Regions from separate parts of the Homo sapiens genome. Here all the other regions are reported to be linked to region 1. Evidence: microRNA targets listed by miRTarBase, many of them from high-throughput screens and not tested one by one. Region 1 holds a microRNA gene; each other region holds the end of a gene's coding sequence.
Evidence for each region. The annotated mature microRNA hsa-miR-1307-3p reads ACUCGGCGUGGCGUCGGUCGUG and lies in region 1 at 1,491-1,512, opposite strand. An mRNA with a match to its seed (bases 2 to 7 or 8) in the 3' UTR can be bound and repressed. Matches are read on the target gene's strand: a 7mer-m8 pairs with bases 2 to 8, a 7mer-A1 pairs with bases 2 to 7 and ends in A, and an 8mer does both.

Region 2: miRTarBase lists ATG14 as a target of hsa-miR-1307-3p. Seed matches in the 3' UTR shown: 7mer-A1 at 3,286-3,292.
Region 3: miRTarBase lists GLYAT as a target of hsa-miR-1307-3p. The part of its 3' UTR that is shown has no 7-base or 8-base seed match.
Region 4: miRTarBase lists BTN3A2 as a target of hsa-miR-1307-3p. Seed matches in the 3' UTR shown: 7mer-A1 at 2,230-2,236.
Region 5: the mRNA of GSTM3 is a reported target of hsa-miR-1307-3p. Seed matches in the 3' UTR shown: 7mer-A1 at 2,297-2,303.
Region 6: the mRNA of CIC is a reported target of hsa-miR-1307-3p. Seed matches in the 3' UTR shown: 7mer-A1 at 3,222-3,228.

The regions. Positions count from the first base shown.
Region 1 is chr10:103,392,811-103,398,102 of GRCh38, forward strand. MIR1307 (microRNA 1307) reads right to left here and starts at 1,591; the gene lies at 1,443-1,591. It overlaps ATP5MK (ATP synthase membrane subunit k), which reads right to left and starts at 3,665. Exons shown (of 5, transcript NM_001206427.2): 1 at 3,599-3,665; 2 at 2,936-3,222. It overlaps PDCD11 (programmed cell death 11), which reads left to right and starts at 3,816. Exons shown (of 36, transcript NM_014976.2): 1 at 3,816-3,920. RefSeq lists enhancers at 2,928-3,760, 3,153-3,242, 3,393-3,642, 4,300-4,801, 4,802-5,292.
Region 2 is chr14:55,365,001-55,370,094 of GRCh38, forward strand. It overlaps ATG14 (autophagy related 14), which reads right to left. Exons shown (of 10, transcript NM_014924.5): 10 at 1,391-4,925. The coding sequence ends at 4,619. It also overlaps a transcript of FBXO34 not described here. Among named protein-coding and RNA genes, the nearest start is that of ATG14, 44 kb to the right of the region's middle.
Region 3 is chr11:58,706,194-58,710,193 of GRCh38, forward strand. GLYAT (glycine-N-acyltransferase) reads right to left here. Exons shown (of 6, transcript NM_201648.3): 6 at 2,564-3,975. The coding sequence ends at 3,573. Among named protein-coding and RNA genes, the nearest start is that of GLYAT, 24 kb to the right of the region's middle.
Region 4 is chr6:26,373,103-26,378,394 of GRCh38, reverse strand. It overlaps BTN3A2 (butyrophilin subfamily 3 member A2), which reads right to left. Exons shown (of 11, transcript NM_007047.5): 7 at 5,099-5,119; 8 at 4,982-5,008; 9 at 4,022-4,068; 10 at 3,597-3,624; 11 at 83-2,598. The coding sequence ends at 4,028. Among named protein-coding and RNA genes, the nearest start is that of BTN2A2, 7.4 kb to the left of the region's middle.
Region 5 is chr1:109,732,719-109,738,010 of GRCh38, reverse strand. It overlaps GSTM3 (glutathione S-transferase mu 3), which reads left to right. Exons shown (of 9, transcript NM_000849.5): 7 at 260-355; 8 at 444-554; 9 at 842-4,074. The coding sequence ends at 940. Among named protein-coding and RNA genes, the nearest start is that of GSTM3, 5.7 kb to the left of the region's middle.
Region 6 is chr19:42,294,983-42,298,982 of GRCh38, reverse strand. CIC (capicua transcriptional repressor) reads right to left here. Exons shown (of 21, transcript NM_001386298.1): 21 at 3,187-4,000. The coding sequence ends at 3,792. It overlaps PAFAH1B3 (platelet activating factor acetylhydrolase 1b catalytic subunit 3), which reads left to right. Exons shown (of 5, transcript NM_002573.4): 5 at 1,618-1,948. The coding sequence ends at 1,905. Among named protein-coding and RNA genes, the nearest start is that of PRR19, 5.1 kb to the left of the region's middle. RefSeq lists an enhancer at 3,165-3,234.

The DNA of each region.
Region 1 (5,292 bases):
TAAGGCTACTCAAAAATTGGAGCTGGTATTTTTCAAACATTCAACGGGTGACCATCAACTAAACAGCTCAATTACAACCCCTACTTATACAATTTTTCTTGTTATAAGTAATTTAGGACCTCCATGGGAGAAGGGAGAAGGGATAATTTATTAAATGGAGTTAATAATAGCTACTGGTGGTAGTAAGGAAGCTGGAATCCTTGCACCACCACCAAAATAGATAAAAGATTTAAATGTAAATAGTGAAACCAAAAAGTCCTGGAAGAAAACATGGGGAAATATTTAAGTCATCTCAGGGAAGGGAAAATATTAAGAAAAAAAGCCAAAAACCAAAAAAAACATAAAACCTATTAGTCAAAGAAATGTAAAATGAGATCAATATTTAATCATCAAACAAGCAAAAATAAAATTATGGTAAGTAGTAGTATTAAGTATGTGAGAAAACTAAGAATTCTCTCTCTGTTGCTTGGAGTATAAACTGGTAAAACCAGCCTGGCACGGTGGCTCATGCCTGTAATCCCAGCACTTTGGGAGGCCAAGGCGGGTGGATGCGAGGTCAGGAGATCGAGACCATCCTGGCTAACACGGTGAAACCCTGTCTCTACTAAAAATACAAAAAATTAGCCGGGCGTGGTGGTGGGCGCCTGTAGTCCCAGCTACTCGGGAGGCTGAGGCAGGAGAATGGCATGAACCTGGGAGGCGGAGCTTGCAGTGAGCCTAGATTGCGCCACTGCACTCCAGCCTGGGCGACAGAGCGAGACGCCGTCTCAAAAAAAAAAAAAATAAATAAATAAAAAATAAATAAACTGGTACAACCTTCAGAAAGTGCAAGTTGGCAGTATCTTATCGAATTATAAAATGAGTATACCCTTTCATCTAGCTGGTGTTTTTCTCCAGGAATTTACCCTTATTGAAATATTACAAAGTGGAAACACATTGTGTGGTTCAAAGATGGTCAATGAAATACTGTTTATGAAAATCTTAAAAGTCCATCTATAGAAGACTGATTAAAAAATGATGGTTTCCATTAAACGACACACAACAGGCACAGATCTTTGTGTACTGACATGGGAAGATGTCCCAAGTAACGTTCAATTTTGTAAGAAAAAATCTTATTTCTGGATTTTATAAAGCACGTCAATGGTTCTGGGTCTTGTCCCTAGACCAGCAGCATTAGCATCACTGGAAACTTGTTAGTGCAAATTCTTAGGCCCTACCTATTGAATCAGAAACTCTGGGTCCAGGAATCTATTTTAATAAGGCTTCTAGATAATTCTAAAGCATGCTAAAGTTTGAAAAATACTGCAGTAAATGAAATAGAAAAATAGTAAGTGTATTAAAAAAAACTCTGGAAGAATATATAGCAAAGGCAGCTTAATCTATAGTACCTGTGTATTTTACAAAGGCATGAATTTCTTTTATAGACAAGACGTATTCAAAAGGTCACCAGAACAAGAGCTGAAAATTCGTATGCATGACCGCCTATCTACCACGACCGACGCCACGCCGAGTCGATTGGCAACACAGACGAGCCGGTCGAGGTCCGGTCGAGATTGGTAGGCAGTGACAGTGACTCAGCTGGGTCTTGATGAAATGGAAGAGGGAGATATCTGTCAGGGAGTCATTACTATGGAAACTGGAACTCCCCCATTCAAAGGCTTTCAGAGGCATTCTTGTGTAAAGAATTGGCAATGAAAATTTGAGAAAAATGACCTTAATTTTCAAGTTTCAAGAAGGTTCTTGGAGCAATGAAGGAAATCCAAACTTCCTTAGGCCTCTTCAGAGACCTTGGCCAGTCTAGCCCAAGTAGGAAAATCTCCATTAAAAATAACTTTATACACTTGATCTTAGCCAACAGAAGCGATAAAAGCAACTTTATAATGTAGCTATCAACTGTTCCACTTTACTAAACTTACTAAAGACATACTTCCCCCCGCCCCCCGCCCCCCCACCAGCTCCATTCATTTCATGATACATTTTTGGATTCACTTCTTAGGGTTTGAAGTAGGTTTTTAGGAGAAACGCTACAGAAAATAAGGGCTTCACTTTGACCATTAACGAAAACCTCCACTACATTACATCTAACTAAACTTTTTAGGAGGATATGCCCAACAATACTACAGCGCTTTAAATTTCCCTTTAATTTACACACAATATGGGAGGAAGGCTGATGTTTTGTGATATCCCACAGAAGACTAATTCTGATTGCAGGGAAGTGCATGGTTCAAGAACTGAAATCAATCACTCAAGTTAGTCTGGGTCTTAAAGGAGGAGGACTCTTGAGAGGCTCAAATGGAGGGCCAAATGGGGAACGGGATTGTTGCTGGTGAGATAATGGAGTAAGGTCGAAAAATTTGGTTCTGCACTCTTCAGCACGGTGCAGGTTACTTTAGGGCAAAGATAAAGGAACCCTTGTGTTTACAGTGCCCTTTGTAAGACTCCTAGTTGTGATTTAATGTTGTTAAACGGTGGTATGTTTTAATTAAGTTGCTAACTGCCCTTCTTGAGACAAGGTCTCGCTCTGTCGTCCAGGCTGGAGTGCAGTGGCGCGATCTCAGCTCACTGCAATCTCCGCTTCCCGGGGTCAAGCGGTTCTCCTGCCTCAGCCTCCCGAGTAGCTGGAACTACAGGCGCGCGCCACCACGCCCGGCTAATTTTTGTATTGTTGGTAGGGACGGGGTTTCACCATACTACTCAGGCTGGTCTCGAACTCTGGACCTCAGGTGATCTACCCGCCTCGGCCTCCCAAAGTGCTGGGATTACAGGCGTGAGCCACCGCGCCCGGCCACTAACTGCTCTTAAATGTAACTAATCCTTCCGTGCCTCTCTCCACCTGTGAGATGGGCACTTTATTAAAGGTCCAAAGTGACCAGTAGCTCTTGTTACTTTCTCTGTTCCTCGATATTGCTATTTTCCTTTCTAACTTAACACCTACCTGGAATGGTGAGATCACGAGGTAAGGAAGGCAAAGATGAGTGAGAACCACTCAGGTAACAGAAGCAGCCTCTTGCATTCACGGAGTTTACAGCTCTCTGTTCTGGTTACCTCCTAGGAAAGGCCTTCCCACTGATCGTCTATAGACTGAAATCTAACCCTTTTACAGCGGGCCTGGCGAACTGTAGGGGCCGGGCCACATTCACTCGCTTTGAAAAAGGCTGCAGCGCACCTAAAGGAGGCCCGGCTGGCCAGCTTCCTAAAGCACAGCTCGGTGGGAACAAACAGCTATGGACATACAGAAGAAAAGAGGTTAATTCGGCCGGTGATGGGGATCAGAAGCCCTAGTCCTCGTCCAATATTACGTCACTGGGTGACCTCGAGGGACGCTTCGCGGAGGGCCTCATTTTTCTCCACTGGCGAATGCAATCTAAGGGTCTTCGGAAACTGTGGGAGCCCTTGGGCGCACCTATCCGCCTCACCTCGAGGCTTCTCACCCGCTGGCCGCCCCCTTGCGCCCCTCGTTTTTTCTAGCTCCTTTCCCATTCCCCACCGTTTCTCTCCTCCAAAGCTAAGAACTCGAGTTGCTCCTCGGCCAGAAACGGCGGGCGGTCCTGCAACGTGCAGGCGCCAGGTCCAAGCCCGGACTCCCCTCTTCACCCACCTGCCAAAGCCGCAAATTCCGCAGCTGGTGTCCTTCAACGAATGTAACCACCTCTCGGCCCGGCCGGAAGAAGCCACCTCCCCCGCACGCGTTTAGCCGGCCCCCGCGATTCGGCCTAATGCGACGATTGGCTATGGCTCCAAATCCCGCCCTTCCGATTCCTGTCTCTAGGTCACCTCCGCAACACAGCAACGGAAGTAGGGTGTTGAGCCCGCCCACACTTCCGGAAGAATTGCACTGGACTGTGGGTATCCTGGTCTCCGCGTGTGTGAGTACCGCGGCGCGAGGTTAGTGGTAGCTGGGTGCAGACGCCGTGGCGCTGGTGAGTAAAGGCAGAGGCGAAAAAGGAGGAAACCTCATGGCTGTCAGGTCTGTCCCAGGCCTGGTTCCCTGCCAGGCACACGCTAGATGAGTGTGGTTCGGCCACCTTAGCCCCGCTTCGAAGCCGGCTCTGTTGTAGCAGCCCCTGTAACCCCAGGCTTTGTGTTCGGAAAGTAGCCTAAGTATCTTCTGTGCCCCTGGATCGCCTTACTTTTCAGAGCCTCAGTTTCCCCTTGCTTGAAAGGAAATTAAGGGTGAAATTATCAGCAAACTAGACCCCCCAAACTTTCCTGTTTCTATGAATCATATACCCATCCCTGATTCCATATCCTTGGCCCCACCCGGTCATCACTTCTTTAGTCTAAAGCCCTTGTAGAGTCTTATTACCAAGTGTCTGTCAGAACTAACCTCTCCTGTCTTCTGTTTTCACTTATACCCAGTTCTGGTTCTCATGGTTTCTCTGCTGTACTGCATTTGAATCCTTTTTTTTTTTTTTTTTTTCTGTCACTGAGATAACAGGAAACAGTGCATTTGAATCCTTCTACCGAATTTACTTGCCTTCAATACTGTCTCTCTTCATGTCCAATCTATAGCCTGCAGTATATTTTTCTTGCTTACTGTTCTCTCGCTTTCCCTGCTTAAGTCTCTGACTTGCCAAAGCAAACTACCCATATCTAATTCAAGGTCTTCCACAAAAAAGCCCAACTTCTCCTTTAATTTTTTTGAGACAGAGTCTCACTTTGTCTCCCAGGTTGGAGTGCGGCGGCATGATCTCAGCTCACTGCAACCTCCGCCTCCCGGCCTCAAGCAATTCTCACGCTTCAGCCTGCCTAGTAGCTGGGACTAGGCGCAGGCCACCACGCCCGGCTAATTTTTGCGTTTTTGGTAGAGACGGGGTTTCGCCATGTTGACTATGCTGGTCTCGAACTCCTGACCTCAGATGATCCACGCGCCTCGGGCTCCCGAAGTGCTGGCATTACAGGTGTGAGCCATGGTGCCCGGCCTTCTTTAAAATTTAACTTCAATTTTTATGCTTTAATCTCCCAGTGGTCTAGTTGAATAATTCCTCAGAGACAACAGCAAGCCTTTGAGCAGTTGTTTGATAGGGAAATTGCTGGTGTTTATTGAAATAATAGGCTTTTCCCATCCATGTCTTTTCTCACATTCCCTTTCTACCTGTCAAGCTTCTGTTCATCTTTTACCCTTAAGCTAAAAAAGATCTTCTTTATGAAGCTTGCCTCCTTTACTTATCCCTTCCTACATTGCCTTATCCCTTCCTACATCTTTGTGATCATTTATAATCTGATTTGCATTTTAAGTTACTTGCATAATTGTTTTATCTTCCAAAAAGTGTGCATGTTCTTTGAAGGCAG
Region 2 (5,094 bases), not on the chromosome of region 1:
ACGAGATCAGGAGATTGAGACCATCCTGGCTAATGTGGTGAAACCCCATCTCTACTTTAAAAAAAAAAAAAAAAAAAAGCCAGGTGTGGTGGCAGACACCTGCCTCAGGAGGCTGAGGCAGAATGGTGTGAACCTGGGAGGCAGAGCTTGCAGTGAGCCGAGATCGTGCCACTACACTGCAGCCTGGGCAACAAAGTGAGACTCTATCATCTCTTCTATCATCTCAAAAAAAAAAAAAAAAAAAACAAAAATGGGGTCTCACTATGTTGCGCAAGTTGGCCTTGAACTTCTGAGCTCAAACAATCCTCCTGCCTTTGGCCTCCTAAAGTGCTGGGATTTCAGGCATGAACCACTGTGCCCCGCCCTAAAAAAAATTCACTTCAACTATCTAAGCACTGGAAAATACTCTTTGCAGTGTATTTTCTTACCAAGTCGGCTGGTGGTGGTTTTCCTCATTGAATTTCAAGGCTGAGGTGCAGATGGCTTGCCCAAGAGTCCAGTTTCAAGTTTTCTGGTACATTTTATTGATGCAACTTTTAAATAATCTCCCCACTACCAATGACAAAGTTATCCTTAATTCCTCCCAATCTGTTTCCTGCATCAATCATGACATAACTCAGGATGGAGAAATCTCCCTTTAAACACCAGATGGGAGCATGCTTTAAACTGCTGCCTGGAAAGACTGAAGGACAGTACCACCAAAGCACACACCCTGTTCGAGAACCCTTCCGTTTCCTTGCCTATTTCCTCCTGTTGCCTGCCAGCCTTCTGCTCCAGATAAAGGGGCAGTATGACCATGGCAATAGCTCCTGAGGGTATCCTGGCTGGCCTGGCTCTTCCACAGTAGTCACTCTTGGTATCTTCTCCACCACCTGCAGGTGGTCCTTCTCTACAATAATCTAATCTGAAGGGTACCGCCGACTACCCACCTGGGAGAAATTAGTTATAAAAAATAAGGGTGTTGGGTTGGGGAGGGATTCTCCAAAGCTACTCAGGCATCTGAGTGGTTCCAACATTTCCCTTTTCCTCTTGTCCTGAAGAAAGTCTGGGCAGGTTCCACGTGGGCATCCTAGAGGCCTTCTGCCCCAGGGGTCTGTTGCACAAAACCAGGTCATTGTAGGTCACATGCATCAAATGATGGCTACCAAAGAAAAACACGTCTTTAGGGAAAGTATGCAACCAGCTTCTCAGCTTGGGAAAGATCATTGTTAATACCACCATAATCCATAATTTTAAAAAATATATTAACATTTTTTCTTACCTGGCAAAAAAATTCTACAAACTTCTTCTATAATTTGTATAAAGTACTCCAGGGTTCAATCTCATTCTTGCTACCCTCGATGCAGCAGTGCAAATGAACAGTTTGAAAAAGACATACACATGAGCAAAGTACTGTTAAAAGATTTATTGCAGTAATACAATAAAAGTTTAGAAAACATTTGTATGACTCAAACTGGTTTGGAAGTTGCAGAGCAATGGGGAATTCCTGCAACATGATACTGTGAGGAGATTCTCGGACACTAGTCCTCTAACAGCATGCCACTGAATGCTCTTCCCCAAATTGAGTCCTTACATGAGTCCCGTCCACTCTACCCAATGGTGATATACTGTTTTTCCCCCTTACAGATGTGCAAAACTTTTCTTATATTCCATAACCAAAAAATGTCTTTAACAGACCATTTTAAGCAGCCTGTTTGGTGCCTGTGGGTTTTTATTAGTATTACTTTGTTTCAGTAAATCATTTTAAAATGGAAAACATGACCAAGTTCTATGGCTTTTTGTTTAAACAAAATACCAGCTTCAATTTTTTAAAAAGCTGTTTACATATGGTTCTGGCACCTACATGAAAGATTTTAATGAGCAGCAAAAAGAGTAGAAAAAACAGTGGTTGAAATGTATACTTAAGAGTATTTACAGGGTGGATCCAGTGCAAAATAATGAAACCCAAAATATTTCAGCAGTGTAAGCCAGTATGTTGGTGTTCAAAACCACAAAAGGGTTCGATCACTTAACCCTATGTAAAGTGCCTCTAGTTGATATTAACAACAACAAACAAAATATATCCTATCCATAAAGTTCCCACATCTTTGTAAATTTTGTGGAAGTACTCTAGATGAGTTTGTGATCTCTGGATTCTATTCTTTAGCTTCATCTCTCATTCATGGTTTCATAAGAGGCTTAAGAAAACCATGACTGTTGTGCATCTCTCAGCTGAAGTCAGTCTCCACCACCAAGCTCCAAATCCCACTCTTACAACTCGTGAGACTAAGCTCTTACTTCTGAGGGTTTTAAGTAGCTAGACAACTCTTACAAGATCGTTAAGTTTATTTATCTGTTCAAGTCTACCATCTTCACTCTCTACGAACTCCAGAACTGGATGGGAAAATGGAAGCCCAGCAATCAATCATGAAGCTGAGCACTTAAAACAGAGATCCCAGCAGTGTAGAAGAACCCATAAGGGGCCGGGCGCGGTGGCTCAGGCCTGTAATCCTAGCACTTTAGGAGGCCAAGGCAAGCGGATCACCTGAAGTCAGGAGTTCAAGACCAGCCTGGCCAACATGGTGAAAACCCCCGTCTTTACTAAAATACAAAAATTAGCTGGGCATGATGGCAGGTGCCTATAATCCCAGCTACTCGGGAGGTTGAGATGGAAGAATTGCTTGAACCCAGGAGATGGTGGTTGCAGTGAGCGGAGATGGTGCCACTACACTCCAGCCTGGGCAGCTGAGTGAGACTCCGTCTCCAAAAAAAAAAAAGACCACCCACAACGAGAAAAGCCTACTTCCTCCTTTCATGGAAAATTCATAGAGCCAAGGAATTTGTGACTACCGGATAGAAATAAACTCCGTTCTGCAACTCTACCCAAAACTATACAAAACACCAAATATACCATTAGCAAAAGCTATATAGCACCTCGGACTTGGAGGCAAAGTATCAACTACAATTATTATGATGAGAAAAGAAGCTGGGGCATGGCAAACCTCTGAATGATTTATCAGAGGTGCTATCATGCCAATCACATAAGATATGGTAATAATGCCTGTTAGGACTCTTTCATAGGATTTCTTTTGGTAGTTGTTACATAGGATTTTTTTGCAGTTATTAAAAATAAACTACTTACATATTTGTACATAATGCCTCTCTCATTATAGTTTTCTTGTAAGATTGTCACTAAAAGAATGACAAGACACGTGAGCTGAAAATGATCTCCTGCTGAGGGAAATTCTTTTTTTTTTTGAGACGGAGTTTCGCTCTTGTTGCCCAGGCTGGAGTGCAATGGCACAATCTCGGCTCACTGCAACCTCTGCCTCCCGGTTCAAGCGATTCTCCTGCCGCAGCCTCCCGAGTAGCTGGGATTACAGGCGTGCGCCACCACACCCGGTAATTTTTTGTATTTTTAGTAGAAACAGGGTTTCACCATGTTAGCCAGGCTGCTCTCAAACTCCTGACCTCAAGTGATCCGCCTGCCTCGGCCTCCTAAAGTGCTGGGATTACAGGCGTGAGCCACTGCGCCTGGCTGGGAAATTCTTTCTTTATATTGTGCTTTCCCCAGAACAGAGCAGAGTAGCATCAGCCGTAAGGATCTGCGCTGCATTTCTGAGCAAAGCTGTGTCCTCAGAGCAACAAAGAGTTCGGGGAAACAAGTAGGATGGTTTCCCCTGAAAACACCTGCCACCTACTCAATCCCATAGAAAGAAAGTGGACACCACAAGAATGACCAGAGGCCACTTAACTAAGTGGCTTTTCCCCTGTGCCCAGGCAGGCATTGAGCTTACATAAGGGAATGACCTTCATGACTTATTTTCACCCAGAAAATATAAGTTCAATTTCAAAATGCTCATAGTGTGGATGGCAGGAATTCAACTAGGTAAGAATAAGCTTAATTCCCCTCAGAATACAAGAAAATAGTTAAAAACTCTCTAGACATTATTGCAGCCAGGATTTCTTCCATTTATGGATGTGGGTCCTAAAGAAAAAGACTTTCATTTTCTTTGGTGTGTGGGGGAAAGAAAAACAGGAATGTCTGACAAACTACGACAGAGCAGCATGAATAAAATACGTGTAACTCACCCCTCCCAAACAAAATCAAAGGACCAAATTAGAAATTTTAAATTGCCTGCTGGTTCTCATACAAAAAACAATGGCAGAAAAACTCTTATTAAAGAGCTTTTATCTTTCATGTCCTAATAATCAAGAATCACCTCTTGTGATTCAACCAACCTCTAAAACTTAAAGTGTCAGGAACAGTCTCAGCACCGCAAGGACCAGCACACTGACCCATATCTGTGGGCCCGGTGGCCCGGGCCCAGAGGGAACCCAAATCAACTGCTTCCTTGGCAGAACTGGCCACACGCACAGGTCCTCCTTCCACCAGCACTGGTCTGGGTAGAAAGACCTTCGACCCCTGTTCTCTTAATTATCATAAGCATGTTGGTCACCATCACAGGCCACTTGGCAAATAGAAATGTTTGTCTCCCTGCTTAAAAAGACAAAACAAAACAACACTTTAACCTCTTTGTTCCAGACACTATCTTAACTTAAACAGAAAATGTTTACTAGAGTGTAGTGGGAGAAGAACTTTCTTGATGCAGATTTGGTATGTTTTGGTCCATGCTCGTTAACGGTGTCCAGTGTAAGCTTTAAACCAGGAGGTCACCGAGGCTGCTGCAGAGGAGATCATCCCACCTGCACTGCTGCTCGCGATGGGTGGGGACGCCTGGGTGCTCTGACTCTGGGAGACTTCCACAGACTGGGAAGGGATATCACAAAACCGGGGACTAGGCAAGTTCTCCCAGTCTGTGCCCAGGTCGGTTTCTTCATCGCTGACGCGCTCATCTCCGCTCTCATCTGATTCTCCAGCAACTCCGGGATCCACAAATTCCATGGACTCCTCAAGGTCTGCTCGTACTTCAAAGGGCCCTGACCTGTGTGCAGACAATGAGGGTCTCTTTAGGATAACAACCATTCTCAACACCAGAAAATATGCCATCTTCCTGAAGGCCCTCACCTGAGGGGATGAGGGACGCCGCACACCCCATTCATTCCCCAAGTCTATGCAGCACTCCGTGTTGACATATGATTGCGTTTTCCTTT
Region 3 (4,000 bases), not on the chromosome of region 1:
TTTGAAACTAATGAAAATAGAGACAAAACATACCAAAACCTCTGGGATACAGCCAAAGCAGTGTTAAGAGGAAAGTTTATAGCACTGACTGCCTACAGCAAAAAGTTAGCAAGATCTCAAATTAACAACCTAGGAATTGAGATTAAGATGGCAGATAGGGGGCAGGACTAGCTTGCAGCTCCCACTCGGATGGACAGAGCCGTGTATGAAGACTCACATCCTGAAATTCTGCTCCAAGAACTACCGTGGGTACATACCAGGAAAGCTGAGAGAATCCACAGACCATTTGAAGAAACTGGATTACCTCTGCAGGCTCCCTGAGACACTGAAAAACAGTGAGTCTGTTTGCTTTCTCAATGGGGAGGCTTGTGGTCTGGGGCAAGCTCTGAGTCCTGGTAACTGGCTACCTGGAAATAGACTTGGTGCTGTTGGGGGGCATGGTGGGAGTGAGACCAGCCTTTGGGACTGTGGGTTGCAGAGAGTGGGGTGAGGCCTATGACTGCTGGCTTCTTCCCTGGTGACCTGTATGATTCAACAGAGGCAGCCATAATCCTCTTGGTAATATAACTCCATTGGACTGAGAACTACACCTTCATCCCTAGTAGCAGTTACAGCAAGCCCTGCCCAAGGGGAGGCTGAGCTCAGACATGCCTATCCCTGCCTCCACCTGGTGGTCTTTCTCTAACCACACTGGTAGCCAAAGACAAGATTATGAGAGCTCTCATAATCTCTTGAGAGCTCTATGGCCTTGACCACCACCTGAGAAACCTGAATACTTAACCAGGTGTCCCTAGGGCAAGTTTGCATCCTCCCTATAGAACTGCAGCTAATGTGCTCTTGAAAGTGCCACCTCCTGGCTGGAGGCCAACCAACACAAAATGAGTGCACTAAACAAAAACAACCAACGACCCTCACAGAGTCCACTTCACTACCCTGCCACCTCCACTGAAGCAGGTGCTGGTATCTATAGCTGCAAGACTGGAAGACAGTTCACACCAGAGGACTCTTTGCAGACACTCCTCAGTACCAGGCTGGAGCCTGGTAGCTCCACTGGGTGGCTAGACTCAGAAGAGCAAAAACAATCACTACAGTTTGGCTCTCAGGAAACCCCATTCCCAGGGGAAGGGGGAGAATGCTACATCAAAGGAGCACCCCATGGGACGAAAGAATATGAACAGCAGCTCTTGAATCCCAGATCTTCCCTCTGACATAGTCTACCCAAATGAGAAGGAACCAGAAAAACAATTCTGGTAATATGACAAAACAGGGTTCTTTAACACCCCCAAAAGATTATACCAGCTCACCAGCAATGGATCCAAACAAAGGCAAAATCCCCGAATTTCCAGAAAAAGAATTCAGAGGTCAATAATTAAGCTAATCAAGGAGACACCAGAGAAAGAAATAAAAAACACGATACATAATATGAAAGGAAAATTCTTCAGTGAAATAGATAGCATAAATAAAAAACAATCACAACTTCTGGAAATCAGGGACACACTTAGAGAAGTGCAAAATGCACTGGAAAATCTCAGCAATAGAATTGAACAAGCAGAAGAAAGAATTTCAGAGCTTGAAGACAAGGCTTTCGAATAACCCAATATGTCAAAGGCAAAGAACAAAGAATTTTTAACAATGAACAAAGCCTCCAAGATGTCTGGGAATAGGTTAAACATTCAATGCTGGGTCTGTGGGACAGACAACTGATGGATGAAATGAGTACTCAGACACAGATATGCAGTGTAAGAGCAGCTAGGTAACTGCCTGGCTCAAGTGGCCAGAATGCAGCCCTGAGAAGCTGGAGCTGCTTGCTTTTATTCAGCACAAGCACAATGCCGAAAGCCTGGAGCAAACACAATCTGTAGGTGATTAACATTTATTGTTCCCCTTTCACAGGAGTTCTAGACCAGACTGGCCAACATGGTTAAACCCCATCTCTACTAAAAATACAAAAAATAGCTCGGTACAATAGCACATGCCTGTAATCCCAGCTACCCTGGAGGCTGAAACAGGAGAATCGCTGGAACCTGAGAGGTGGAAGCTGCAGTGAGCCAAAATCATGCCACTGCACTCCAGACTGGGTGACAGCACGAAACTCTGTCTCAAAAAAAGAAAAAAAAAATAGAAAGCTGTCCTAACCTGTTGCAACCTGAAAGATTATCTCTCTTGTTCCCCCTCAACTGACTCTTGTTTGAGACAATTATCTAAACTTTTAATAGAGTTCAGGCATTCTGAAGTAATGCTATAATTGGAATGTTTGTGTTTCCTCCAAAATTCATGTTGAAACTTAATCCTCAATGTAACAGTATTAAGAGATAGTCTTTAAGAGATAATTAGGCCACAAGAACGTCCACCCTTATGGATGGGATTTGTGCCTGAAGGAAAAAGGACTGGAGGAAATTAGCTGGGCTCCTTTTTGCTCTTCTGTCTTTCTGCCATGTGAGGACACAGTGTTCATCCCCTACAAATAACACAGCAATAATGCACCACCTTGGAAGCAGGGACTGGATTCTCACAGACACCAAATCTGCTGGCACCATGATTTTAGACTTCCAGCCTCCAGAACTGTGATAAATAAATTTTTAATTATTTTATTATTATTTTAAATAAACAAATAAGTTCAGACTGTTATTTATGAATTACCCAGTCTCAGGTATTTTGTTACAGCAGGAACAAACTGAGATTAGTAATGTGCTGAGGCTAATTGGACAAGCAGGTGTTCATGCTGTCTCCTCTCCCTTCAACTCCTATCTCTCCTCAATAAACCATCACATCCCTGGGTCAAGGTGCTCCCACCTTCACCTTTTCATACACTCATTCCTTTCATGCTGTCACCATGATGAACCACTTAGCTTGAACAAACACAATAAAAATTGTATACAGTCAAACACAAAACTTTCTGTATTATTTAGGAGTTGTGGGTTTTGGAAGCTCATCTTTAGAAAAAACATTGGATCTTTTTTCCTGGAATAGGAGCTTGGAGAGGATAGGATATCATCAGTTGATATTTCTTCTAGTAACATTCCCTGCTATATCATGTATACTGTATTTAGCCTAATATCCCATATATATTTGTGTCCAGTATATTTAATGTACCTATAAAGTAGCAATAACAGGAGAGGATAATCTCTAAAGACCTGCTGAGGAGAGTCCACTTGTTGATCATAAGGGAAAGGCTTTAGAAAGAAAGAAGTCATAGTGCTCAGAAAATTTAATTCACCTCTTCCTAGCTCCCAGAAAAACTGGCAAGGGTCTTGCAACTGAGGAACCAGGGATTCCAGGAGAAGTAATTTGGAGCAATATGTATCTGATGAAGTGTCATAGAGGTCCTGGAAATGTGGGGAGGTAAATTGCTTATGTCAAATGTAAGAGGACCTGGGCCTGCTTCCCACTGAGAAACCTGTGAATGCAGGGACCATGGCGATGCTGTTGAACATCACACTGCTTCCCCAGAGTCCAAACAGTGCCCACTCCTTTACTGCTGATTACAATTTATTATTTCTTTTCATCCACCATCCACTCCTCAAATTATACGCCCAGACCTGCCCAACACTGTCTTATGTTCAGGATTGGCATCACAGAGGTACACAGTTCCACTGGTTCCAGCTTCTGGGAATGGGAACATGTTGCAGTGTGTAACTCATTTTTTGCATAGCTTCATTGCTGTAGTCTACATGAGAATAGACAGGAAACCCAAGTTTGCCCAATTTCTGGGCGTGGGAATAGATGACATACGTCACAAGGCCATGGAGCCGGTATTCCGGCAAGGTGCCTGCCATTCTCATCTCTCCAGTCTGGTCCATTAGATCCCAGCACACAGGGGTCCCCTCAGGCCCCAGGAGACAGCAGGTGGGAAAGGTCTGAATGCAGCGCTCAATGAATCTCTGGCTCCTCTCATTACCACCAAAATGCCAGAATTTATTCACCAAGTGAGCATGGGTAACATCCATGGATGAGAGTTTAAACATCTCTTGGTTGCTATGGAGGGTCCAAGAAGAAAACA
Region 4 (5,292 bases), not on the chromosome of region 1:
ACTGTGGGGAGTACAGTGGGTATGTAGACTACTCTACTGTGCTGAGTAGACACCACAGTCTAGAAAAAACCAAGTTGAAGAGTCAGCATTATTAACAAATTTATTGAACAACTAGAACTTGACAAGCACTTGCCCAGTAGAGGGGATACAGTGGTGAGCAATAATAGTGATGATAATGAGGAGCAGTTTTCCCTAGCAGGCAGCAGTTGAAAGGAATATGGGTTTAACATCCACCAATGACCAGGAGTGGACAGATCCTTTTCCAGGAGACTGAGTCCATAGTGGGATTAAAAACATCCCTGTAATTCTTCTAGCTTCCTTCATCCAAATTACCAATATTACAGAGAATCTCTAGGGTATTTGCTCTGCCTGGAAACCTTGACTGAAGGAAGGCTGGCTCTGGCTGCACGATCACTTATCACATTTGTTGGGTGGGAACACATCTGTGCCCCATTATTAACTGAGTGTGGCCTCTAGTCTCTTTCAAAGTCACATGCCCTGTGGGAACTGCAACGTTATTCTCTCAACCAAGACACTCTGCAGAGCCAATCCAAGGAGTGCTGGGTCTAAGGCTCTGATAATCAGCTGGGAAGGAGTCCATAGGGGTCTTAACTCCACAACCACTCACAGTGATCTCGATCCTGGAGCTGTCCTGGGAAGGGAACCTCAGGGCTACATGTGGGCTCTTCCCATGCAGGAAAAATCAGGCTGGAAAAGAACGGGCAATTGGCCAGGGACTGAAGCTGAACATCTCCCAACTGCACAAATTACCGTGTGAGTTATGTAAGCTACTTAATGTTGCCCTGCCTCTGCTTCCATACTTGCCAAATGAGACTACCTGACAGGGTGTTGTGAGGATTAAAGGAGTGACACCCACCAAAGCTCATAACACAGCACTCAGAACGTTTTAAATTCTCCATTAATGTTAGTCATTGTTGTTCAGATCCCAGCTCTGTTGTTCACTATTCCTGTCTGCTTTGTAAAGTCAATACACTTTTCTACACCCCAGTTTCCTTATCTGTATAAAGGGGCCAATAAGGTGGCACCAAACTCAAACAACTGTCCTATGGAATAATTGAATGAATATCAGTAAAGTGCTTCAGTGTGTGCCTGTAGCTTTATGGTTCTGACTGGCTGTTGTGGAGGGTGAGACCCTTAGCTCCAGGCTGGGCAGGGAGAAGCAGAGATGTTACTTCAGCCTGAGGCTCCCCACTTTCATTAGCTAAGCCTGGGGTCAGTGGTATCTCCAGGGAATGATCAGGCACTAGGTCGGGATCGGGGGAACTCTCTACTTTTGGTATTGGGCAAACGGTCAGGGCAGTGGGCTCCAAGGTCAAAATTCTGAATACAGGATACAGAGGCTCAGAGGAAGAGGCGTGCAGAAATGTGTAGATATGAGATCCATCCGTGGCATTGTAGAACGAGATATGTCCAGTCTCATAGTCCAGGATGACCCCCACTTTCCTAGGAGGCTCAGGAAGTTTCAGGTTGGTTCTGGGCTCAGTGAGAGCCCGATACTTATTCCCATCAGTCAGGCCCATAGTCCAGTATCCGTTCTCCGGTGTCATTTTGACCCAAACTTTTTTCCTCTCCACGTTCTTACTACATACCCCAATATGCCACTCTTTTCTGTCCCCCACTTCCACCTCCCAGTAGTGTCTCTCTGACATGAAGCTTTCACAGCCAAGCACACAGTAACGCCATTCAAATCTCTCAGGGTTGTCTGGTAGGTCATGGGGCTCCTCAGCACGCTGTACACTCCTCTGGTCCTCAGAAACAAGGAGGATGGCATTTGCCATGTCTGGATACAGAATTACATCTGCTGCAGAGAGTTTGAGGAGGTGTCCATGGGGTCAGCCATTTTTCCTGGATTTAAGAGCCACAGCATGCAAGGCTTGGGCCATGCTGAGGAGGTCCTTCCAGAACCCCGTGTCCCTAGCCTGCCCTGAATGTGATTCTCTCATCAATGTCATTGGTGAAAGCCCCAGGGGTCTAGTGACCAGAGGGGAAATGAAAGTAAGGTCAGTATCTGCCTAACCCAATACCCTGATGCGGCCCCAAGAAGCAACAAGGATCCTCTTTCTACATTTTTGTTGTTTCCCTCCCCACATTGATTCTGCCCACTGATGCTTTATACTCAGAGGTTAATTTTCTTTTCTTTTTTTTTTTTTTTTTTTTTCTTGAGACAGAGTCTCGCTCTGTCTCCCAGGCTGGAGTGCAGTGGCGTGATCTCGGCTCACTGCAAGCTCTGCCTTCCGGGTTCATGCCATTCTCCTGCCTCAGCCTCCCGAGTAGCTGGGACTACAGGTGCCCGTCACCATGCCCGGCTAATTTTTTATTTTTTGTATTTTTAGTAGAGACGGGGTTTCACCGTGTTAGCCAGGATGGTCTTGATCTCCTGACCTTGTGATCCGCCCTCCTCAGCCTTCCAAAGTGCTAGGATTACAGGCATGAGCTGCTGTGCTGGCCCTCAGAGGTTAATTTTCAATCTTCACTCGACCACTCGTGAGCTAAATGAGTTCCCCTTTTCTGCAGTCTATTTTTCCATACATCCAATTTATTTAACAAGGTGGAGCCTCATCTGAAGCATTTCCTCACCTGAAAAATGGGGATAAACATATGAATCTCTAGCGCTGTAGAAGGCAATCATATTATTTACTCAGCCCACAGCAGGCCATGAAGGAAGCTCCTCATCTTCCTGATAGCTGCAAGGCCGTCTCTGTGCTGGGCTCTGTGTGGGGCCTTATATGCCCTAGATTCACTCTCCAGCCTTCAGCTTTCTCCACCCTCTTCTGGACCCCAGGAATCTGTCCTCTATGGACAGTGCCACTGGGCTCCCTTGTCCTCTGGTTTGCTGCTGTGTTTGGCCAATGGGAGGCCCTGATAGAAGATTAGAAGGAGAAAGAAAGGAGATACACACCGTTTAATTTCCTGCTTCCTCCCTGCCAGCAGCAGCTGGTGGTGCTCTAACAAGGCCCGAGGACTCTTCTCAGGAAGCTCCCTCGTTAAGCTACCTCTTTCTCTGGGTTCCAGTAATTGCCTCCCCTTTTTAGCCCTCCCAGGCTAGGGGTGGAGACAGCTCCCCACTGTTGGGAACCATGGGGGCACTGCACTTTTCCTTGTTGCTTTCCCTTAACCCTTCTTTCTGGAAACCTTGTCCAACTACCCAGTTTGAGCTCACCATCTATTTCTTGCTAGGTTTCTGCCAAGCATGTTCATTATTCCTTCAGTCTTCACCTCAACCCCCATGAAAAACAGATTGCAATCATCATCTAAAAATGTGGAGGCCAAAGCTTGGAAGCATTAAATCCTTTGAGGAGATACAGGCAGTAGGTGGCATGAGAAGCCTGGGAAGGACAAAGTTCTTTGGGCAGGCATCACCTCCTCTCCTTGGCATTTCCATCCTCACTCTCCCTGCAGTATTACTCAGTGTGTGTCTCCTTCCCTTCACCTCCACCCTTTATGCGTCTTCCTACCCACGAAGGAAGTCAAGGGAACTTTTCTGCTCCAAATCACAAGAGTTGGAGAAGAAAAAAGGAAAAAGGAATATAGTCCCTCAGGTTGTTGGTCCAGGGAACATGCAGTGATTTACTCACCAGGCTTGAAGAGGGCCATTTTTCCATTCTGAAAGGAAGGAGACACAGATAAGAAAAAGGTCAGTATTTTTGTACTTTTCCCACTCCATTCTCCTCTCACTACATGTTTTCTCTCCTTTTCTTTAGAGTCTCTTCCAGGGTCCAGCTTCCCTCCTCTACAGCTCTGATGGATCAGAGGTGGCACCTTCTCAAAAATGTCAGGCTTGGCTCCCTGTGTCATGGGGGGTGCAGGATGCATGGCCAGGCTTTACAAGGGGGTGTGCAGGATCAGGAGTTTCTCAGAGGCTCCAGAAAAGCGGAGGTGAACCCCCACCACACAGAAATTGAGTCTTTAGATTAGATCTAATTAATCCAGCTGAGAACATCCACGGGTCACAGTGGAGAAAAAGTTGAAATATTCAGGGCATGTGACCCAGCAAACTTACAGAGCATCAGGCTGACTTATTGGTATCGGACGAAGACTCCTCTCCACCTACAATGAAAGAAAGGTAGAGGTGTCACCAGAACTCTGCCTTTTCTGTGTTGGCCCCTTCCCCTTCTTTTTGCATCCATCTAGTCTTTTTTTTTTTTTTTTTTTTTTTTTTTTTTTTTTTTTTTACCATCCCACCCTTCCCCATGGTCTCCATCTTCAGGTACAATTCTTTCTTCACCTCTTCTTAATATCAAGTCTGGGAACATCGGTTGAACGCTAGTGGCAGGGCAGGCACTGTGAGAGTTCCTTCCCAATGGGGTCCAGCTCATCTGTTTTGAATGTGTACCTGGGCATAGGTGTCACCATGTCTATATGTGTATGCCTAGGAGTACAAGATTCATCCTTCTCAATCTGTATCATTTCGTACCTTGCTCTAAAAAGAATTTGGGAAATTTAATGAGCAATTTCAGGGACTAGTTTTTGAAAGCAGTTATGATCTATCTGTACCAACTGAGCCACTGTAGCTACTCCTCTTTATTAGACACACTTTTCTCCCTCCCTCTCTCTTTTCTGATTTTCTTATTTCTTAAATCTTCCATTCTTGTTTTCCTTTCAACAGCCTCTAGATTATGGGAAACAACAAGTAAGTTTCCTGCCATAGAAAATGCACCTCATCCTTCTCTTCCCTCTTCCTTTTGAAGTGTACCCCTGGATATTCCTCAGTGCTTTTTAGAGCTTAAGGGTCTGTAGCCCCTAGTACAAAGAGATTGAAGACCTCTTTTTTTTTTTTTTTTTTTTCTAGAGAGAAAAAGCACTGGGTGGTTTCTCCAAAGAGCCACACTTGTTTTCTTTTTCTGGGTAAAGGGATCCAAGACCACTTTTCAACCCTGGGCTATGACTTATGGGCTGGAAAATAATGAAGCAGAGAGAGAGTAACAGATTTGAATTCAGAGAAAATGTCAAAGCCACTCACGAGTCAAGTACTGGATTTTTTTCCTCTCTGCAATGGAATGAACAGGGAAGAGTCATCAAGGTGCTCAAAGCGAGGATAGGAAGACATGTCTGGATCTCTGGGGGAATGGTAACTTACTGAGTTCCTCCTGGAGGCTCTCTGGAAAATAACCAAAAAAAAAAAAAAAAAAAAAAAAAGATGAACTGTTATGGGTGAGGTTGGTGTTTCGGGAAATAAACCTTAAACATGATGCAGTGCCAGGGTAGGGGAGAGAGGTGAGGTTTTCAGGCTGGGGCATGCAAGCCAAGAGCTTAGATTCTCTGCTTGCGTTG
Region 5 (5,292 bases), not on the chromosome of region 1:
ATTCTGCTGCTGCTACCTTCCCACCAATCCAGATTGTTAGAATAAGAAACAGAACTTATATTTTTTGGTTTGTTTTGTCATGTAATTCTGGTGCTGGTGCCTCTTCTTTCTAAACTCCTCTTTCCCCACCCTGCCATCCTCAAGTGAAGGCAATGAGAACCCACCTAGAGAAGGGGCTACTAAGTGTCCATCACTGGCCTGTGCCCTGATTAACTACAAAGATGATCACCACTATTCTCATTCTGTTTTTTCCTCTCAGGAAAAACTGAAGCCTCAGTACTTGGAAGAGCTACCTGGACAACTGAAACAATTCTCCATGTTTCTGGGGAAATTCTCATGGTTTGCCGGGGAAAAGGTAGGAAGAAGGGAAAAGAAGAGGATACTTCTCTATCTCTGCAGGCTACTACTCCTCAGACCTAAGCATCTTATTGCTTTTCTTCTAGCTCACCTTTGTGGATTTTCTCACCTATGATATCTTGGATCAGAACCGTATATTTGACCCCAAGTGCCTGGATGAGTTCCCAAACCTGAAGGCTTTCATGTGCCGTTTTGAGGTGACGTTTCCTGCACCTTTCTCTTATAAAAACACTCACAGGCTCCCCTGGGACCTGCAGGATCCCATAGTGGAGGATTCTTCCCCGGCTTTTGCCTAATGGGATCAATGGTTGGACACCTCTAGACCTTTAAGTCTTGGGAAGAGCCTAACTTCTATACCTTGGAGGCACTGTCTACAAAAAAATGGAGGAGGTAGACGCAGGCAACACGTGAATGTTGCTGTTCTGGTATGCATCTGTTGGACTGGGTTGGGGTCGTTATAAGATTTGGTGTATTTTCCTTTCAGGCTTTGGAGAAAATCGCTGCCTACTTACAGTCTGATCAGTTCTGCAAGATGCCCATCAACAACAAGATGGCCCAGTGGGGCAACAAGCCTGTATGCTGAGCAGGAGGCAGACTTGCAGAGCTTGTTTTGTTTCATCCTGTCCGTAAGGGGTCAGCGCTCTTGCTTTGCTCTTTTCAATGAATAGCACTTATGTTACTGGTGTCCAGCTGAGTTTCTCTTGGGTATAAAGGCTAAAAGGGAAAAAGGATATGTGGAGAATCATCAAGATATGAATTGAATCGCTGCGATACTGGCATTTCCCTACTCCCCAACTGAGTTCAAGGGCTGTAGGTTCATGCCCAAGCCCTGAGAGTGGGTACTAGAAAAAACGAGATTGCACAGTTGGAGAGAGCAGGTGTGTTAAATGGGACTGGAGTCCCTGTGAAGACTGGGTGAGGATAACACAAGTAAAACTGTGGTACTGATGGACTTAACCGGAGTTCGGAAACCGTCCTGTGTACACATGGGAGTTTAGTGTGATAAAGGCAGTATTTCAGACTGGTGGGCTAGCCAATAGAGTTGGGACAATTGCTTACTCATTAAAAATAATAGAGCCCCACTTGACACTATTCACTAAAATTAATCTGGAATTTAAGGCCCAACATTAAACACAAAGCTGTTGAAATATTGATGAAAATGTAAGAATTTTTGTGACCACGGGGTAGGAGAAGTTTCTTTAAAGACGTAAAAAGAAAAAAACCATAGGCTGCTCTGCCTGTGGAGTAGCCATTCTTTATTCTTTTACTTTTTAAAATAATAACAATCACAAAGGAAAGATTTGCCAATTGAATAGGATCAAATTCTACAACTTTTCCTAAGGCACCCACAAATAAATGACAAGTGAGACAAAAAGCACTAGTATAAAGATTATATAAAGACCTATAAATCATTAAGACAACTGAGTTTTTAAAAATGGACAAAATCCATGAACAATTTATAAAATAGAAATATAGCCAAAAATGTCTAAAAGATGTTTATGATGTAAGGAATTATCAATTACAACAGTGAGAAACCATATTTCCTTCTATCCGATGAGTAAAAAGTTTCTAAAGTGTTGGCAAGGCTTAGGAAAGTGATATGCATTTCCTGCTGGTCAAGTTGTAAATTAGTATAGCTACTTTGGAGGACAATTGTAAAATTTAAATCATATCCTATGACCCAGCAATTCCATGCTATAAAAACTCATCCATGGCCGGGCTTGGTGGCTCACGCCTGTAATCCCAGCACTTTGGGAGGCTGAGGTGGGCAGATCACGAGGTCAAGAGATCGAGACCATCCTGGCCAACATGATGAAACCCCGTTTCTACTAAAAATACAAAAATTAGCTGGGCATGGTGGCATGTGCCTATAGTCCCAGCTACTCAGGAGGCTGAGGCAGGAGAATTGCTTGAACCTGGGAGGCAGAGGTTGCAGTGAGCCGAGATCACGCCACTGCACTCCAGCCTGGCTACAGGGCGAGACTCTGTCTCAAAAAAAAAAAAAAAAAAAAAAAAAAAACATTCAAAGAGACATATACTAAGATGTTCACTGTGGCATTGTCTGTAATGACAAATAAGTGGAAACCGTGTAAATACCTGTCAATACTATGGAGTACCATGTGGCAACGGAAGAATGAGACTGAACTGTGTGAACTAACATGCAAAGATCCCCAAAACAGGCCAGGTGTGGTTGCTCACAGCTGTAATAACAACACCTTCAGAGGCTGAGGTGAGAGGATCAGTTGAGGCCAGGAGTTTAAGACCAGCCTGGGCAACATAGTGAGACCCCTGTCTCCCAAAAATTTTTTTTAATTAGCTGTGCGCAATTGCTCATGCATAGTCCCAGCTACCCAGGAGGCTGAGGTGGGAGGATCACTTGAGCCCAGGAATTTGAAGCTGCAGTGAGCTGTGTTCTTGCCACTGCACTCCAATCTGGGTGACTGAGCAAGACCCTGTCTCTTAAAAAAATAAAAAAGATCTCCAAGCATAGAGAAGAGTCTGGAGGGAAACACCAAACTCATAACAGTCTTACTGCAGGCAAGTGGGATAAAGGCCCAGACTCCATGGTGGAAGTTAAAGGGCATTTCCAAGTTAAGGCTAAGACTTGCTTTTCTAACTAAGAGAATGTGCTCATGCATTGCTTGTGTAGTAGAAACTAGTTTTTAGAAAAGAAAGCAAACTTAAGAAACACTGACTCCTGTGGAGATGACTTGGCACCACTCTCCTTTCACAGAGCAGAGTCTGAATAGTCTTCAGAGATAGGCCTGTGGGCCAGATTGCCATCCCCTATGGACCAGAAGCCAAGGATCTCTCTAGTGATGGTCAGAGGGCCCAAATGGCAGGGATACCCAGTGATGTCAGGAGGAATAGTACAGACAGAAGGTGCTAAGCAGACAATTCAACTGCCATGTTTTGCCACCCCCTGTGAGCAGGGATTAGGTGTTCAGGCCAGTATCTTGGGCATGGGGGAGCCTTTGGCCAGAAGAGGTATAAAGCTCAGAAGTTTTTCAGTCTGATAACTATTGATATAATTTCCATAGTGTGAGGGAGCGGTATGCTCTACCCTTGTGTATTTAAGGCAGGACAGAGAAATTGAGGATGCCCCTGGGGCTAGATCGATGATATGACCAGAAATCAAAAAGGGAATGCATTATTTATTGCTGTGTAACACTGTTAAGAGAGGAGGTAGTTAAGGGATGGATAGGCACATAGAGAGGGAAGGTCTCAGGAGAAGGGATAGAAAGGAACTATGTTCACAAGAACAACGGCAAGACAGTGCCTATACTGCCTCTACAGTTAATAGGAAAAACGGAAGAAGTTACCCTTAAGCTAGGATGTTGCTCAGAAGTGACCATCCCAACTTTGGTGCGGGCACAATAAATCAGCCTAAATGTCCCTAATTTAACCCAGCTCATTATAATGTCATTAAACATGACATTAGCATTGTGGTTTTAGCACCCCCATGGGTTTTGCTTAGGCACTCATGGGTAATAACCAAGATGGAGTCCCTTTGGCAAAACTTAGGCATGCACAGCTGTAGTACCCCAAGAAGAAAATGTTACTTCTCTCATCTGGGCAAAACCCACAGAAGACTTCCCAGCTTCTGCCACATAAAAGACACAGAACACAGACGCCTTACTGGCAACCTGCTTTCAAGACCCCTGTCTTTGCTGAGAGCTTTCCTTTTTCCCAATAAATTCTACTCTGCCCTACTCACTCTCCATGTCCATGTGCCTAATTTTTCGTGGTCATGGGACAATAGCCTGAACCTTGCCATACTCCAGGGGCAAAAGAAGACTTCTACACTATTCCCACAAATTTAGCAGCTAAAACAATACATGTTTATGGTCTCAAAGTTTTGTGGATTAGGAGTCTGGGCACAGCTGAACTGGGTCCTCTGCTCAGGGTTTCATCTGAAAACTGCCATCAGTGTGTCATCCAGAGCTCTGATCTCATCCCCAGGCTCAGTGGGAGAAGGATCTGCCTCCAAGTCTGTGTAATTGTTGATAGCGTCAGTTCTTTGTTCCCTGTGGGACAGAGGCCCTCCATTTCTCATTGGCTGTCGGCTAGAGCCACCTTCAGTTCCTTGCAAAAGGGATCTCCTCAACACGGCCACCCATTTCACCAAAGCTAGTAAAGGAGTCTGCTGGAAGAAGGAACACTACAGTCCTATGTAATCTGATCACAGCAGTGACATCCCATCACCTGTTCTTATTCTATTAGAAGCAAGTCACCGGCCCCACCCACACTCAAGGGCATGAGTACCAGGAGGTAGGATCATGGGGGCCATCTTAGAGTCTGTTCACCACAAGAGAAGAAGGAAGGAAACAGGAGATTGGTCCTGCAGTCCTATGAGAAAAAAATCCTGGGAAAGACAGATGACAGGAGAAAGCAGCAAGGTAGGGAATGAGCAATTTGCAAGGGAGAAGTTTAAAAAGCCCAGGTCTGCAGGTGAAATGTATTTCACATGAATTCCAGATGGACAGATCACATAGGCAAATCACGTTTCAATTTTTTTTAATTATTATGTTTGTTAGTGAAAATCCACTCAACAGTTATGCAAAACCTGGACCTTACTGGCCCAGAAAGCAGGGAAGGCCACTGAGAGGAACAGATCCTTTCCACAAGAGAGGTGGATCCCCAGTTCTCAATCAGCTCCCAGCTCTAACTCTAATATAGGCCAAGAAAAGAATGCCGTAACAACGGCTGCCTTCAGGCAAGTGGCAGATGCAGGGGGGTGGCTGGGGACACATCCAAGGCACAGAGGCACAATAGTGATGGCTTTATACAAGTACCATCAGTAAGGGCTTAAAAGAAAACTTGAAACAGGTGCATTAGATTTGGTGGAGCAGTTCCCCAAAAGTATCAGGGAAATTCATTTGTATTCATTGTTGAAGGTTGAGCAACTGGGCGTTTCTAGTTCAGAAAGAAATA
Region 6 (4,000 bases), not on the chromosome of region 1:
AATTAGCCGGGCGTGGTGGCAGGCGTCTGTAGTCCCAGCTACTTGGGAGGCTGAGGCAGGAGAATGGCATGAACCCGGGGGGCGGAGCTTGCAGTGAGCCGAGATTGTGCCACTGCACTCCAGCCTGGGCAACAGAGCAAGACTCCATCTCAAAAAAAAAAAGAATTAGCTGGGTATGATGGTGCGCAAAACCTGTAACCCCAGCTACTTGGGAGGCTAAAGGAGAAGGATCACTTGAGCCCAGGAATTCAAGGTAACAGTGAGCTGTGATCATGCTACTGCACTCTCGCCCGGGTGACAGAGACCCTGTCTCACCAGAAAACAAAAGAAAAACCCTCAAAAAACCTTGAATAGGCCAAAAGTTGTCAGGCATTCCTGGGGTAAATCTAGGCTCCATCACTTGTAGGTAGCTAGGATATTTCCTCTTCTGAAAACGGATTGATCCCTTGGCATGAGCCATGATGTTGATATCTTTTATTTATTTATTTATTTTGGGACAGAGTCTTGCTCTGTTGCCAGGCCAGAGTGCAGTGACGCAATCTGGCCTCACTGCAACCTCCTCCTCCTGGGTTCAAGTGATTCTCCTGCCTCAGCCTTCACAGTAGCTGAGACTGCAGGCGCGTGCCACCACACCTGGCTAATTTTTGTATTTTTAGTAGAGATGGCATTTCACCATGTTGGCCGGGCTGGCCTCAAACTCCTGACCTCAAGTGATCCACCCGTCTCAGCCTCCCAAAGTGCTGGGATTACAGGCGTGAGCAACCTCCCTTGGCCTATTTATTTTTTGAGACAGGATCTGGCTCTGTTGCCCAGGCTGGAGTGCGGTGGCATGATCTCAGCTCACTGCAACTTCTGCTTCCAGGGCTCAAGTGATTCTCCCACGTCAGCCTCCCGAGTAGCTGGGACTACAGGCACACGCCATCATGTCCCACTAATTTTTGTGTATTTTTGTTAGAGATGGGGTTTCACCATGTTGCCCAGGTTGGTCTCGAACTCCTGGGCTCAAGCGACCTATCCAGCTCTGCCTCCCATCATGCTGGGATTACAGGCGTGAGCCACTGAACCTAGCCAATGTCAACATTTTTCTAAGTGATACTTGGAAAGAGGCTAGGCCGCGCATGGTGGCTCACGCCTGTAATCCCAGCACTTTGGGAGGCCGAGGCGGGCGGATCATGAAGTCAGGAGATCGAGACCATCCTGGCTAACACGGTGAAACCCCGTCTCTAATAAAAATACAAAAAATTAGCCGGGCATGATGGTGGGTGCCCGTAGTCCCAGCTACTTGGGAGGCTGAGGCAGGAGAATGGCGTGAACCTGGGAGGCGGAGCTTGCAGTGAGTCGAGATCGCGCCACTGCACTCCAGTCTGGGCGACAGAGCAAGACTCTGTCTCAAAAAAAAAAAAAAAAGAAAACGAAAGAGGGTAAAACCCAGAAGTCTCTTGCTAAATGAGGGCTAGGATGTGATATTTAGGAACTACCCTCCCACCCTCCCCACTTGCCCATCCCTAGTGTTTTCTGCAGCTGGAAACTTCATGGTGGTGGGTGGAGGACAGGTTGGCACAGAGAACAAGATACTCAAATGCTTGTTTCCTTACTACGCCTCGTGTTCCTGCTCAGGGCCTGCTTCCGCGAGGCCAACATCCCAACCCACTTCGGGAGAAGAACCGACAGGTGAACGAGCTGGTACGGGCGGCACTGGCTGGCCACCCTCGGGCCCACTTCCTAGATGCCGACCCTGGCTTTGTGCACTCAGATGGCACCATCAGCCATCATGACATGTATGATTACCTGCATCTGAGCCGCCTGGGCTACACACCTGTTTGCCGGGCTCTGCACTCCCTGCTTCTGCGTCTGCTGGCCCAAGACCAGGGCCAAGGTGCTCCCCTGCTGGAGCCCGCACCCTAAGCATCCTGCTGCCTTCCCACAACATTAAACTCTCCTTCCTCAGTGTGCTGTTTCCTGCTTTATGGTCGAACCTGTCTGGGTATCTGGGTACCACCATTAGTCCTTATCCTGATCTGTGACCCTGCAGTTCTGCAAGGTGTTTTTTGTGTGAGACAGGGTCTCTCTCCGTCACCCAGGCTAGAGTACAGTGGTGAGACCACAGCCCACTGCAACTTCAACCTCCCAGGCTCAAGTGATCCACCCACCTCAGCCTCCTGAATAGCTGCTACTATAAGCATGTGCCACTAGGTCCAGCTTATTGTATTTTTTGTAGAGAAGTGGTTTTGCCATGTTGCCCAGGCTGATCTGACTCCTGAGCTCAAGCAATCCACCTGCCTCGGCCTCCCAGGGTGCTGGCATTACAGACATGAGCCACCATGCCTGGCTGTGGTTCTATTTCTGCCCAGGGCAGGTATCACTGATCCATTAAGGCACTGTGATTCTTGTGGTTAGGTTAATTTCCACTATCACAATAGTGTGCTTCAGGCAGGCGTTACCAATCAGTAAACACTAGTTAAGACCAGCTTTCCAGCACTATCCTACAGGACCAAGCTCAGGCAAGAATTCTGGGAACATAGTGACCCAGTGCATATGCGGTTGCCCTGGCTGGAACTTCCTGGTGCTCCATCTCTAGCTTAGATGCCACTTCTGTGGAGGTGTCCTGACCCTCCCACTCCTAGTTGTCATCCCTCCACACAGGGTGTAGGTATCTTGTCACCTCAGGTGGGCACTGTGTCCACATGCTGAGCAGGAGGGGTGTCACCCAGGGGAGGTTCCTTCAAGCCCAGTTGCAGTGCAGGCCCAGGCCACATGGGGGCAGCAGGGGTCACACTGAGGACCAAGGGTATTCCAGGTAGACTAGGCTCCCTCCCACCCACTGCCACCTCTGGGCTAGGACCTCTTGGGACCTGTTTCCTGAGTACGAATGACCCCAGAGCCAGTGAGGGTAAACCATCCAGTGGCATCTTGCCTCAGGCCTTCCCCAAACTCACGCAGTCCAATGGCTGAGAACAGGGCCAGCAGGCATTGAGGCTCCCGGAGCGCACAGGCTCCTAAACTGGAGAGGGGCCATCTGGTCCACAGCAAGTCAGGGACCTGGCCTATGGGGTTCCTCTGAAGTTGGGGGCAGTGGTACTGGAATTGTTGCCCCCACCTCATGGAAAGCCTACCGCTCCATGACAACTCAGGACAGGACTGGTACAACCAACAGCCCTCCCTGTTAAGAGCCTACAGCCACACAGGTGTGTTAAACAGCTTTAATCTCGCTCATTGCGGCTTCTCGGCACAGTAAGAAATATTGCACATGATCAACATGTTTTGTTCTGGGGAAGGGGGCAAGGGCAGGGGGAATCACCTTCTTAGAAAGTACAACCCAAGTTGGGAGGGCAGAGGGGGTGAGGAGAAAACCCTCCCCGTGCCTGTGGCAAAGTGCAGGAGCCCCCACCCCCAAACTAACCTGAGTCCAGCCCCTCTGGGGAAAAAAGGGGTGCATGAACTCCCCCTATTCCACAGGCGCCTCCCTGTGGCCCAAGGCCTGCACCACCCTCCAGCTTGCAGCCCTCACAGGAGCCATTTTGCATAAAGTGAAAAGCTCTGAAGGTCACACGCTCCAGGTTATGTACAGGGGCTTGGAGGAGGGAGACTGCCCCTGCAGCCCCTCAGCTGCCCCCCAGCACCGGGAGGGAGCTTCGAGGGAAGGGGGTATTTACAAGAGGAGCAGGCCTCATTCCGCCCCAAACTGGAGAGGACGAAATGGCTTTACCCGGGAGGAGATAACCTTCCTGCCCCCACATACTGTCCATGTCCTGAGGGGGTACTATAAGTCCTGGCATCTTCTCAGGGGTCCCTCACCTGCCTGTGGCAGCTGTGGAGGGACCTGGGGGTGGGGGGGAGGGCTGGGGAGCCCCCTCCCAGCCAGGCTGTCCAGGCCCCGACTCTGGGGGTGGAGGCAGTGGCGGGGCAGCCTGGGCCGTGCCAGAGTCCGAGCTGGGTGAGGTGGGGTCAGGGCCCCCTGCGGGGCTGGGAGTGGGGGCAGGGGCAGCAGCGGTGCCAGTGG